2 separate regions of the Homo sapiens genome follow, and region 2 is linked to region 1. The links come from fine-mapping of genetic effects on gene expression. Tissue or cell type: whole blood. Region 1 holds a variant in brackets; the other region holds the start of a gene. Each region is shown on its reference strand, or each on the opposite one.

Evidence for each region. PIP is the estimated chance that this variant, and not a neighbour inherited with it, causes the effect. A credible set is the group of variants that fine-mapping cannot tell apart.
Region 2: it holds the start of ZNF547, and the variant in region 1 is the best candidate, but not a certain one, in a credible set for the expression of ZNF547 in whole blood (TOPMed, PIP 0.66).

What each region holds. Positions count from the first base shown.
Region 1 is chr2:230,187,599-230,192,598 of GRCh38, forward strand. The region is part of intron 10 of SP110 (SP110 nuclear body protein); the gene reads right to left. It also overlaps a transcript of SP140 not described here. Among named protein-coding and RNA genes, the nearest start is that of SP110, 30 kb to the right of the region's middle. The variant G/A (reference allele first, on the strand shown) is at 2,006.
Region 2 is chr19:57,360,563-57,366,102 of GRCh38, forward strand. ZNF547 (zinc finger protein 547) reads left to right here and starts at 2,989. Exons shown (of 4, transcript NM_173631.4): 1 at 2,989-3,141. It overlaps TRAPPC2B (trafficking protein particle complex subunit 2B), which reads left to right and starts at 2,989. Exons shown (of 2, transcript NM_001355204.2): 1 at 2,989-3,141; 2 at 4,253-4,843. The coding sequence starts at 4,272. The coding sequence ends at 4,694. RefSeq lists enhancers at 2,542-2,621, 2,662-3,041.

The sequences.
Region 1 (5,000 bases):
TTCTTATAGAATTTTTCTGGTTTCAGGTCTTAGGTTTAAATTTTTGATCCATCTTGAGTTAATTTTTGTATAAGGTGGGAAATAGGGATCCAGTTTTATTCTTTTACATGTGGCTAACCAGTTTTCCCAGCACCATTTATTAAATATGGTGTCATTTCCCCAATTTATGTTTTTGTATGCTTTGTCAAAGATCAGTTGGTTTTAAGTATTTGGCTTTATTTCTGAGTTCTCTATTCTGTTCCATTGGTCGATGTATCTACTTTTATAACAGTATCATGCTGTTTTGGTAACTATAGCCTTGTAGTATAATTTTAAGTCTGGTAATGTGATGCCTCCAGATTTGTTCTTTTTGCTTAGGATTGCTTTGGCTTTGCAGGCTCTTTTTTGGTTCCATATGAATTTTAAGATTTTTTTTCCAGTTCTGTGAAAAATGATGTTGATATTTGATAAGAATTGCATTCAATCTGTAGATTGCCTTGGGCAGTGTGATCATTTTCATATTGATTCTTCCAATCCATGAACATGGGATGTGTTTCTATATGTTTGTGTCATCTATGATTTCTTTCAGCAGTGTTTTGTAGTTCTCCCTGTAGAAATCTTTCATCTCCTTGGATAAGTATATTCCTAGGTATTTTATTTTATTTTGTTGAAGTTGTTTTAAAAGGGATTGAGTTCTTGCTTTGATTCTCAGCTTGGTCACTGTAGGTGTATAGCAGTGCTAATTTGTGTACATTTGATTTTGTAACCTGAGACTTTACTGGATTCATTTATCAAATCTAGGAGTCTTCTGAAGGAGTCTTTAGGGTTTTCTAGGTATATGATCATATAATCAGGGAACAGTGATACTTTGATTTCTTTTCCAATTTGGATGTCATTTATTTCTTTCTCTTTTCTGATTGTTCTGGCTAGGACTTCTAGTACTATGTTGAATAGAAGTGGTGAAAGTGGGCATCCTTGTCTTATTCCAGTTCTCCAGGGGAATGCATTAGATTTTTTCCCATTTAGTATCACATTGGCTGTGGGTTTGTCATATATGACTTTTATAACTTTGAGGTAAGCCCCTTCTATGCCTAGTTTGTTGAGGATCTTTATCTAAAGGGATGCTGGATTTTATCAAATGTTTTTTCTGCATCTATTGAAATGATCTATGGTTTTTAATTCTGTTTTTGTGATGTACCACATTATTGACTTGCATGTGTTAAACCATCCCTAAATCCCTGGGATTAAATCCACTTGATCATGGTGTATTATATTTTTGATGGGCTGCTGGATTCAATCTCACTGTTTGTTATTGGTCTGTTCATGGTTTCTATTTATTCCCAATTTAATCTAGGAGGGGTGTATGTCTCCAGGAATTTATTTATTTCCTCTAGATTTTTCTAGTTTTTGTGCATAGAGGTGTTCATAGTAGTCCTGAATGATCTTTTGTATTTCTGTGGTGTCAGTTGTAATGTCTCCAGTTTCATTTCTAGTTGAGTTTATTTGAAACTTCTCTCTTTTTTTTTGGTTACTCTGGCTAATGTTCTATCAATTTTGTTTATCTTTTCAAAGAACCAGCTTTTTGTTTAATTGATCTTTTTTATTTTTTGTTTCAATTTTATTTCATTCTTCTCTCATCTTTCTTTTTTTCTGCTAGCTTTGGGTTTCTCTAGTTCCTTGAGGCATGACATTAGGTTGTCAATTTGTGATCTTTCAGACTTTTTGATGTAGGCATTTAGCGCTATGAACTTTCCTCTTAAAAGCACTGCTTTTGCTGTATCCTAGAAGTTTTGATAATTTATGTCACTGTTACCATTCATTTCAAATAATTTTCTAATTTCCGTCTTAATTTCAGTGTTAACCCATAAATCATTCAGGAGCAGATTATTTAATTTCCATTTATTTGTTATGGTTTTGAAAGTTCCTTTTGGAGTTGATTTCTAGTTTTATTCCACTGTGATCTGAGGAGATACTTAATATAATTTCAATTTTTTTCTTCTAAAAAACCCCCCAAAATGGGACACAC[G/A]TGCAGAACATGCAGGTTTCTTACATAGGTATGCATGTGCCATGGTGGCTTGCTGCACCTATTGACCCATCCTCTAAGTTCCCTCCCCTCACCACCCACACCCCAACAGGCCCTGGTGTGTGTTGTTCCCCTCTCTGTGTCCATGTGTTCTCAATGATCAACTCCCACTTATGAGTGAGAACATGCGGTGTTTGGTTTTCTGTTCCTGTGTTACTTTGCTGAGGATGATGGGTTCCAGCTTCATCCATGTACCTGCAAAGGACATGATCTTATTACTTTTTATGGCTGCATAGTGTTCCATGATGTATATGTACCACATATTCTTTATCCAGTCTAAATGCTGGATTCTTTATCCAGCATTTGGGTTGGTTCCACGTCTTTGCTATGGTAAATACTGCTGCGATAAACATACATGTGCATGTGTCTTTACAGTAGAATGATTTATATTCCTTTGGATATATACCCAGTAATGGGATTGCTGTGTCAAATGGTATTTCTGGTTCTACATCCTTGAGGAATCACCACACTGTCTTCCACAATGGTTGAACTAATTTACACTCCCACCAACAGTGTAAAAGTATTCCTATTTCTCCACAGCCTCACCAGCATCTATTGTTTTCTGACTTCTTAATAATTGTCATTCTGACTGGCATGAGATGGTCTCTCATTGCAGTTTTGATTTGCAATTCTCTGATGATCAGTGATGTTGAGCGTTTTTCCATATGTTTGTTGGCTACGTAAATTTTTTTTTTTTTGAGAAGTGTCTGTTCATATCCTTTGCCCATTTTTTGATGGAGTTGTTTGTTTTTTTCTTGTAAATATGTTTAAGTTCCTTGTAAATTCTGGATATTAAACCTTTGTCAGATGGGTGGATTGCAAAATTTTTCTCCCATTCTGTAGGTTGCCTGTTCACTCTATTTCTAGTTTCTTTTGCTGTGCTGTAGCTGTTTAGTTTAATTAATTCCCATTTGTCAATCTTGGCTTTTGTTGTAATAGCTTTTGGCTTTTTTATCATGAAGACTTTGCCCATGCCTATGTCTTGAATGATATTGCTTCAGTTTTCTTCTAGGGTTTTTATGGTTTTGGGTTTTACATTTAAGTCTTTAATCCATCTTCAGTTATTTTTTGTATAAGATGTGAGGAAGGGGTCCAGTTTCAGTTTTCTGCATATGGATAGCCAGTTTTCCTGGCACCATTTATTAAATGGGGAATCCTTTTGCCATTGCTTGTTTTTGTCAGGTTTGTTGAAGAACAGATGGTTGTAGATGTGTCGTGTTATTTCTGAGGTCTCTGTTCTGCTCCATGGTCTATATGTCTGTTTTGGTACCAGTACCGTGCTGTTTTGGTTACTGTAGCCTTGTCGTATTGTTCAAAGTCAGGTAGTGGGATGCATCCCGTTTTATCCTTTTTGCTTAGGATTGTCCTAGCTATATGGGATCTTCTTCGATTCCATATGAAATTTAAAATAGTTTTTTTTTCTAATTCTGTGAAGAATGTAGAGACAATATACCAGAATCTCTGGGACACAGCTAAAGCAGTGTTAAGAGGAAAACTTGTAGCACTAAATGCCCACATCAGGAAGCTAGAAAGATCTCAAATGGACACCCTAACATCACAATTAAAAGAGCTAGAGAGGCAAGAGCAAGCTAATCCAAAAGCTAGCAGAAGACAAGAAATAAGTAAGATCAGAGAAAAATTGAAGGAGATAGAGACACAAAAAACCCTCAAAAAATCAATGAATCCAGGAGCTGGTTTTTTGAAAAAATTAACAAAATAGATCACTAGCCATATTAATAAAGAAGAGAGAGAAGAATCAAATAGACAGAATAAAAATGATAAGGGGGAATATCATCACTGATCCCACAGAAATACAAACTACCATCAGAGAATACTATAAACACCTCTACACAAATGAACTAGAAAATCTAGAAGAAATGGATAAATTCCTGGACACATACACCCTATCAAGACTAAACCAGGAAGAAGTTGAATCCCTGAATAGACCAATAACAAGCTCTGAAATTGAGGCAGTAATTAATAGCCTACCAACAACACAAAACCCAGGACCAGATGGATTCACAGCTGATTCTACCAGAAATACAAAGAGGAGCTGGTACCATTACTTCTGAAACTATTCCAAACAATTGAAAAGGAGGGAACTCCTCCTTAACTCATTTTATGAAGCCAGCATCATCCTGATACCAAAACTGGGAAGAGACACAACAAAAAAAAAGAAAATTTCAGGCCAATATCCCTGATGAACATCAATACGAAAATCCTCAATAAAATAATGGCAAGCCAAATCCAGCAGCACATCAAAAAACTTATTCACCATGATCAAGTCGGTTTCATCTCTGAGATGCAAGGTTGGTTCAACATACACAAATCAATAAGCATAATCCATCACATAAACAGAACCAAGACAAAAACCACATGATTATCTTGATAGATGCAGAAAAGGCCTTTGATAAAATTCTACATCCCTTCATGTTAAAAACTCTCAATAAACTAGGTATTGATGGAACATATCTCAAAATAATAAGAGCTATTTATGACAAACCCACAGCCAATATCATATAAAATGGGCAAAAGCTGGAAGCATTCCCTTTGAAAACCAGTACAAGACAAGGATGCCCTCTCTCACCATTCCTATTCAACATAGTATTAGAAGTTCTGGCCAGCACAATCAGGCAAGAGAAAGAAATAAAGCGTATTCAAATAGGAAGAGAGGAAGTCAAGTTGTTTCTGTTTGCAGATGACATGATTATATACTTAGAAAACCCCATCATCTCAGCCCAAAAACTTCTCGAACTGATAAGCAACTTCAACAAAGTCTCAGGATACAAAATCAATGTGCAAAAATCACAAGTATGCCTTTACACCAACAATAGGCAAGCAGAGAGCCAAATCATGATGAACTACCATTCACAATCACTACAAAGAGAATAAAATACCTAGGAATACAGCTAACAGAGGATGGGAAGGACCTCTTCAA
Region 2 (5,540 bases), not on the chromosome of region 1:
TTTGTTTTGTTTTGAAATGGAGTCTTGCTCTGTTGCCCAGGCTGGAGTACAGTGGCATGATTTCGGCTCACTGCAACCTCCACCTCCCGGGTTCAAGCGATTCTCCCACCTTAGCCTTCCAAGCAGCTGGGACTACAGGCACCCGCCACCATGCCCAGCTAATTTTTGTATTTTTAGCAGAAATGGGGTTTCGCCATGTTGGCCAGGCTGGTCTCGAACTCCTGACCTCAGGTGATCTGTCTGCCTCGGCCTCCCAAGGTGCTGGGATTACAGGTGTGAGTCACTGCGCCCAGCCTGGCTGGGGTTTTTTTATGTGAGTTTCACACACCTCTGAGTAAGTGGCTTGCAGACAGAGAAGTTAACAACTTTGGCTGTTAGCTTGAACCTGTGATTTATGAATACCAAAAAGACAAATACAGAATCTAAGGAAACACATAACAGTCCTGTATACACACAGCAGCTGGCAGCCCTATTCCCGGTGTGTCCCATATACCTACCATTGACCTGAAACCCAGTTTGTACGTGCTCATTGAACATTTTGTAGAGCAGTAAATACACATCATCACACAGATTGCCTACTCATTTTTATTTTTATTTTTCGAGACGGAGTCTTGCACTGTCACCCAGGCTGGAGTGCAGTGGCGCGATCTCTGCTCACTGCAACTTCCACCTCCTGGGTTCAAGCGATTCTCCTGCCTCAGCCTCCCAAGTAGCTTGGATTACAGGCACCCGCCACCATGCCCAGATAATTTTTGTATTTTTAGTAGAGACAGGGTTTCACTATGTTGGCCAGGCTGGTCTTGAGCTCCTGACCTCGTGATCCGCCCACCTCGGCCTCCCAAATTGCTGGGATTGCAGGCGTGAGCCACCGCACCCGGCCTTCATTTTTATTTTTTGACAAGTGTTTCCATTTGTTATCTCTATCCCTCCAAACAGTTAATAAGCGATGTTTTCAAGTATGAAATAAGAAATACATATAGGAGACAGAAGCATAATGTGTCCAGGTTCCAGCACAGCCAGTCTCAACTTCATTCTTTGACTTCTCAGACTCTTGCTCAAACTCTACTGTAACCTTGCTTTTTCCCCCCTTCACATGTCACAGAGAGATTTCTGTAGGACTATTTCTGCCACTAGTTTTGAAATAACATAATCACTGTTAGTCCAAACTGCACCATCCTGTAAGCCCCCTGCCATCTCACAGACCTTGGTCAGAGTGAAGCATTCCACGGAGTGAGGGCCTTGAGAAACATCCTGCCCAACTGCCTGACTTTCTTATCACATCGTTCTGGGAAAAGATCCAAGGAAGGTCACTATCACATCCTGCCGGATAAAAGGCCAAACTGCCTCAGGAACATCTTACGCACATCCTTTGGCCGGGTGCTGTGGCTCACGCCTGTAATCCCAGCAATTTGGGAGGCCGAGGCGGGCGGATCACCTGAGGTCAGGAATTCCAGACTGGCCTGACCAACATGGTGAAACCCTGTCCCTACTAAAAATACAAAAAAATTAGCCGGGCGTGGTGGCACGCGCCTGTAAAGCCAACTACTCGGGAGGCGGAGTTCAAGAATCGCTTGAACTCCGGGAGGCGGAGGTTGCAGTGGGCCGAGATCACGCCATTGCACTCAAGGCTGGGCGACAAGAGCGAGACTCCTCCAAAAACAAAAAAAAACCCACCATCCTCCTGGGCAGCAAGTCATACCCTCCCGCCGCGCCCCCTGCCCCCCACCCCTGACCCCTCTCATCCAGGCCTATAATTGCCCCAGCCTGTAAGCAGTGAGGGGTTCTGGCACTAAGCTAGTTCTCCCCATCACAGGTCTCGTGCTGGACATAAAACCTGCATTGCTGTAGAGCTGCCAACTCTGCCTTTCTTTAACCCTCGCCTTCCCTTCAAAACCTAACAGTTATTATTAATAGATTTCTGTAATTTTCATTTCACAAGTATTTTCACAGATAATTTCAACTCCCTGTAAAATGATAACTCACTTCTCAGGAAGGAGATAAGATCATGAAAGTTCACAGTTTTTATTGGGGATAATACGTTCCCTGTGTACATATACTCCAACTATGGAATGGCACAAAATGTCCTGTCAGGAAATGGCATGTATCAGTCACTCTCATTTTCAGACAGGATTGAGACTTTTAAAATAAATGTAAAATATTTCAGACATGAAGTAATAAGTATTATTAGAATAAAAGCATTGCACTCTTGGTAGGAACACAATCACTGACTCTACAGACAGTAATGATGTTTTCTTCTGGATCCAGAGGCACAGCGTCACCCTTTCAATCTACGTCGGTATCTCCTGTCTTCTTTTGTGCAAATTCCCAGCCATGTAGTCTTTCTTTGTTCTCTTGGACCAACCATATTGAAGCTTAATAAATAGAAGTCAAAGTTTAACTGTATGTGTATTTGAAAAGCAACATATGGCTGAGAGGCATGAGTAGAGACAGAGTGCCTTTGTGGTATAGTGTGTCCCTTTGGCGGTGTAGCCGTTGAGAACTTGCTGTGCTTCACAATCCGATATCATAGGTCCCTCACATTTCTGTGAGTATCCTAGACCTTACTTCAAGAAAATCTGGTTATGTCGCCTTTAAGAGCAACCCAAGCCCCGTCCTGTCCGTGGAGTCCGGCACTCTGTTTACCAGCTCCCCTGACGGTGCCACTGAGCCTCTATCCGCCATATAAGGACTGACCAACGCTCTAAGGCAAGTCCAGAAGCGGTGTCGAAACTTCATAACCCAGAAGACACTGCGGTTCTCGGCAGCGCGACTGACCCAATGAATGTGCAGGAAGGAACCTTTGCGTGCGTGCGTGCGTGCGTGCGTCCGTCCTCGTGCTCGCGCATCGTAGGAGGGCGGGACTTCCGGCGTCCTCTTGCCGTGGTTGATTTGATTTTCTCTGGTGTTTTCACTAGTTCCGGCCTTTGGCGCTCTATGACGTCACCGAAGTGACGGAGCGGAAAAGCGCGAGAAGCGGCTTGGTTCCTTGTACGCAGAGGCGGTAGTGACACAGGCACAACTGACAGTGGCAGAAGCTCAGCTGACAAGGACTGGGGACGGCGGTGTCCTTGTCTTGCCTTTGTCGCCCCCGCCCCTCTCTTCCCTGGCTGGACTTGCGGAGTCCCCGCCGAAGAACCCGAGGTGGGTGCCCCGTCCCAGGCCCCCCCCCACCTCCGCCCGACCCCTCCTTCCAGTGCTGAAGCCCATAGAAGGGGCCCTGCAGGTCAGGCCCCTTGTCTCGAAGAGAGGGGCGTTCCTGTGTGGGGTCCCCGTATCAGCTGGTTTGATGCAGCCTCAGAGCTCCCTTCGGGGATCTCAGGTTCAGAGCATGGAGGTGCTGCCAAGTGGGCCGCGTCGGGGAGCCCGGAGTGTGGGTTGTTTCTGCGGGAAAGAGAGGGTTTTGTGAATTTTCTCTTGGAATGGCAGCCTGAGCAGCCGGTATAACCATGGAAGGTTGTCAAGGGAAGACCAGTGGGAGGGGCAGGTCCAGAGTTAGAACGAGCAGGATGGGGAATTGACACAGAGAGACCCAGAAGAGGCCACTGCAGTGGATCCCAGAGGCTGCACCAGAGCCGTGGTATAAGAGGGACAATGTGATGGGATTCTGGATAGACCTGGAAGATAGAGCCAACAGGTTTTCCTGCCGTATCAGATATGTCTGTGAGCAAAAATAGGGAGTGAAGGGTCATTTTTTTTTTTTTGCCCGAACATCTGAAAGAATGAAGTTGGGGAAGTCAGCAGCATGAGAAGTAGGTTTCATGGAGAAGATCATGGGTTGGAGTTTGGCCAGTGTGATTCTCAGGCGTCTCAAGTTGAAAATGTCACATGGGTAGGGGGACAGAAAGGTGTGGAGTCTACAGAGGAGAACTGGTGTAGATTCTTCAAAAGAATAGAGGGTGGCCGGGCGTGGTGGCTCACGCCGGTAATCCCAGCACTTTGGGAGGCCAAGGCGAGCGGATCACAAGGTCAGGCGTTCAAGACCAGCCTGACCAACATGGTGAAACCCCGTCTTTAGTAAAAATACAAAAATTAGCCGGGGGTGGTGACGCGCGCCTGTAATCCCAGCTATTCGGGAGGCTGAGGCAGGAGAATTGCCTGAACCCAGGAGGTGGAGATTGCAGTGAGCCAAGATCGCGCCATTGCACTCCAGCCTGGGCGACAGAGCGAGATTCCGTGTCAAAAAAAGGTGCGGAGCGCGGGTCTCTTCCGCGGAAACTGACATTGCGTTTCCGTTGTCGGCCTCCCGCTGCAGGAGCCATATATTGAAGACCATGTCTGGAAGCTTCTACTTTGTAATTGTTGGTCACCATGATAATCCAGTTTTTGAAATGGAGTTTTTGCCAGCTGGGAAGGCAGAATCCAAAGACGACCATCGTCATCTGAACCAGTTCATAGCTCATGCTGCTCTCGACCTCGTAGATGAGAACATGTGGCTGTCGAACAACATGTACTTGAAAACTGTGGACAAGTTCAACGAGTGGTTTGTGTCAGCATTTGTCACCGCGGGGCATATGAGGTTTATTATGCTTCATGACATAAGACAAGAAGATGGAATAAAGAACTTCTTTACTGATGTTTATGATTTATATATAAAATTTTCAATGAATCCATTTTATGAACCCAATTCTCCTATTCGATCAAGTGCATTTGACAGAAAAGTTCAGTTTCTTGGGAAGAAACACCTTTTAAGCTGAATGGAGAAAATTCCAAAATAAATTATATCACCACAATGGTGTATACTCAGGAATGTGTACATTGTAAATTACTTGATTAAATAGCCTGGAAATCTTTTGTGTATTCTCAGCTTATCTAAACTTAATGAAATTTCTTTTATATTTAAAAATAGTACATTCTGTCTCATGTCACATATCAGTAGATCAATTAGTATTTCCTTGTGAACAATGTTATTTATAAAGAACTCATTATCAATAATAATTAATTTCTTTCTTTTTTTTTTTTTTTTGAGACGGAGTTTTGCTCTTGTTGCCCAGGCTGGAGTGCAGTGGCACAGTCTCGTCTCACTGCACCCTCCGCCTCCCAGGTTCAAGCAATTCTGCCTCAGCCTCCCGAGTAGCTGGGATTACAGGCTCCCACCACCATGCCTGCCTAATTTTTTTTGTATTTTTAGTAGAGACGGAGTTTCGCCATGTTGGTCAGGCTGGTCTTGAACTCCTGACCTCGTGATCTGCCTGCCTCGGCCTCCCAAAGTGCTGGGATTACAGGCATGAGCCACCACTCCCGGCCATGAAATATTTTTACTTAAAAATTGGGAATAAGCTTTCTTTTTCTTTCTTTCTTTCTTTTTTTTTTTTCTTTTGAGATGGAGTCTGGCTCCTGTTGTGCAGGGGCTGGAGTGCAGTGGCACGATCTTGGCTCACTGCAACCTCCACCTCCCGGGTTCAAGCAATTCTCCTTCTTCAGCCTCCCAAGTAGCTAGGATTACAGGCATGCACCACCACGCCTGGCTAATTTTTGTATTTTTAGTAAAGACGGGATTTCACCATATTGGTCAGGCTGGTCTTGAACTCCTGACCTCGTGA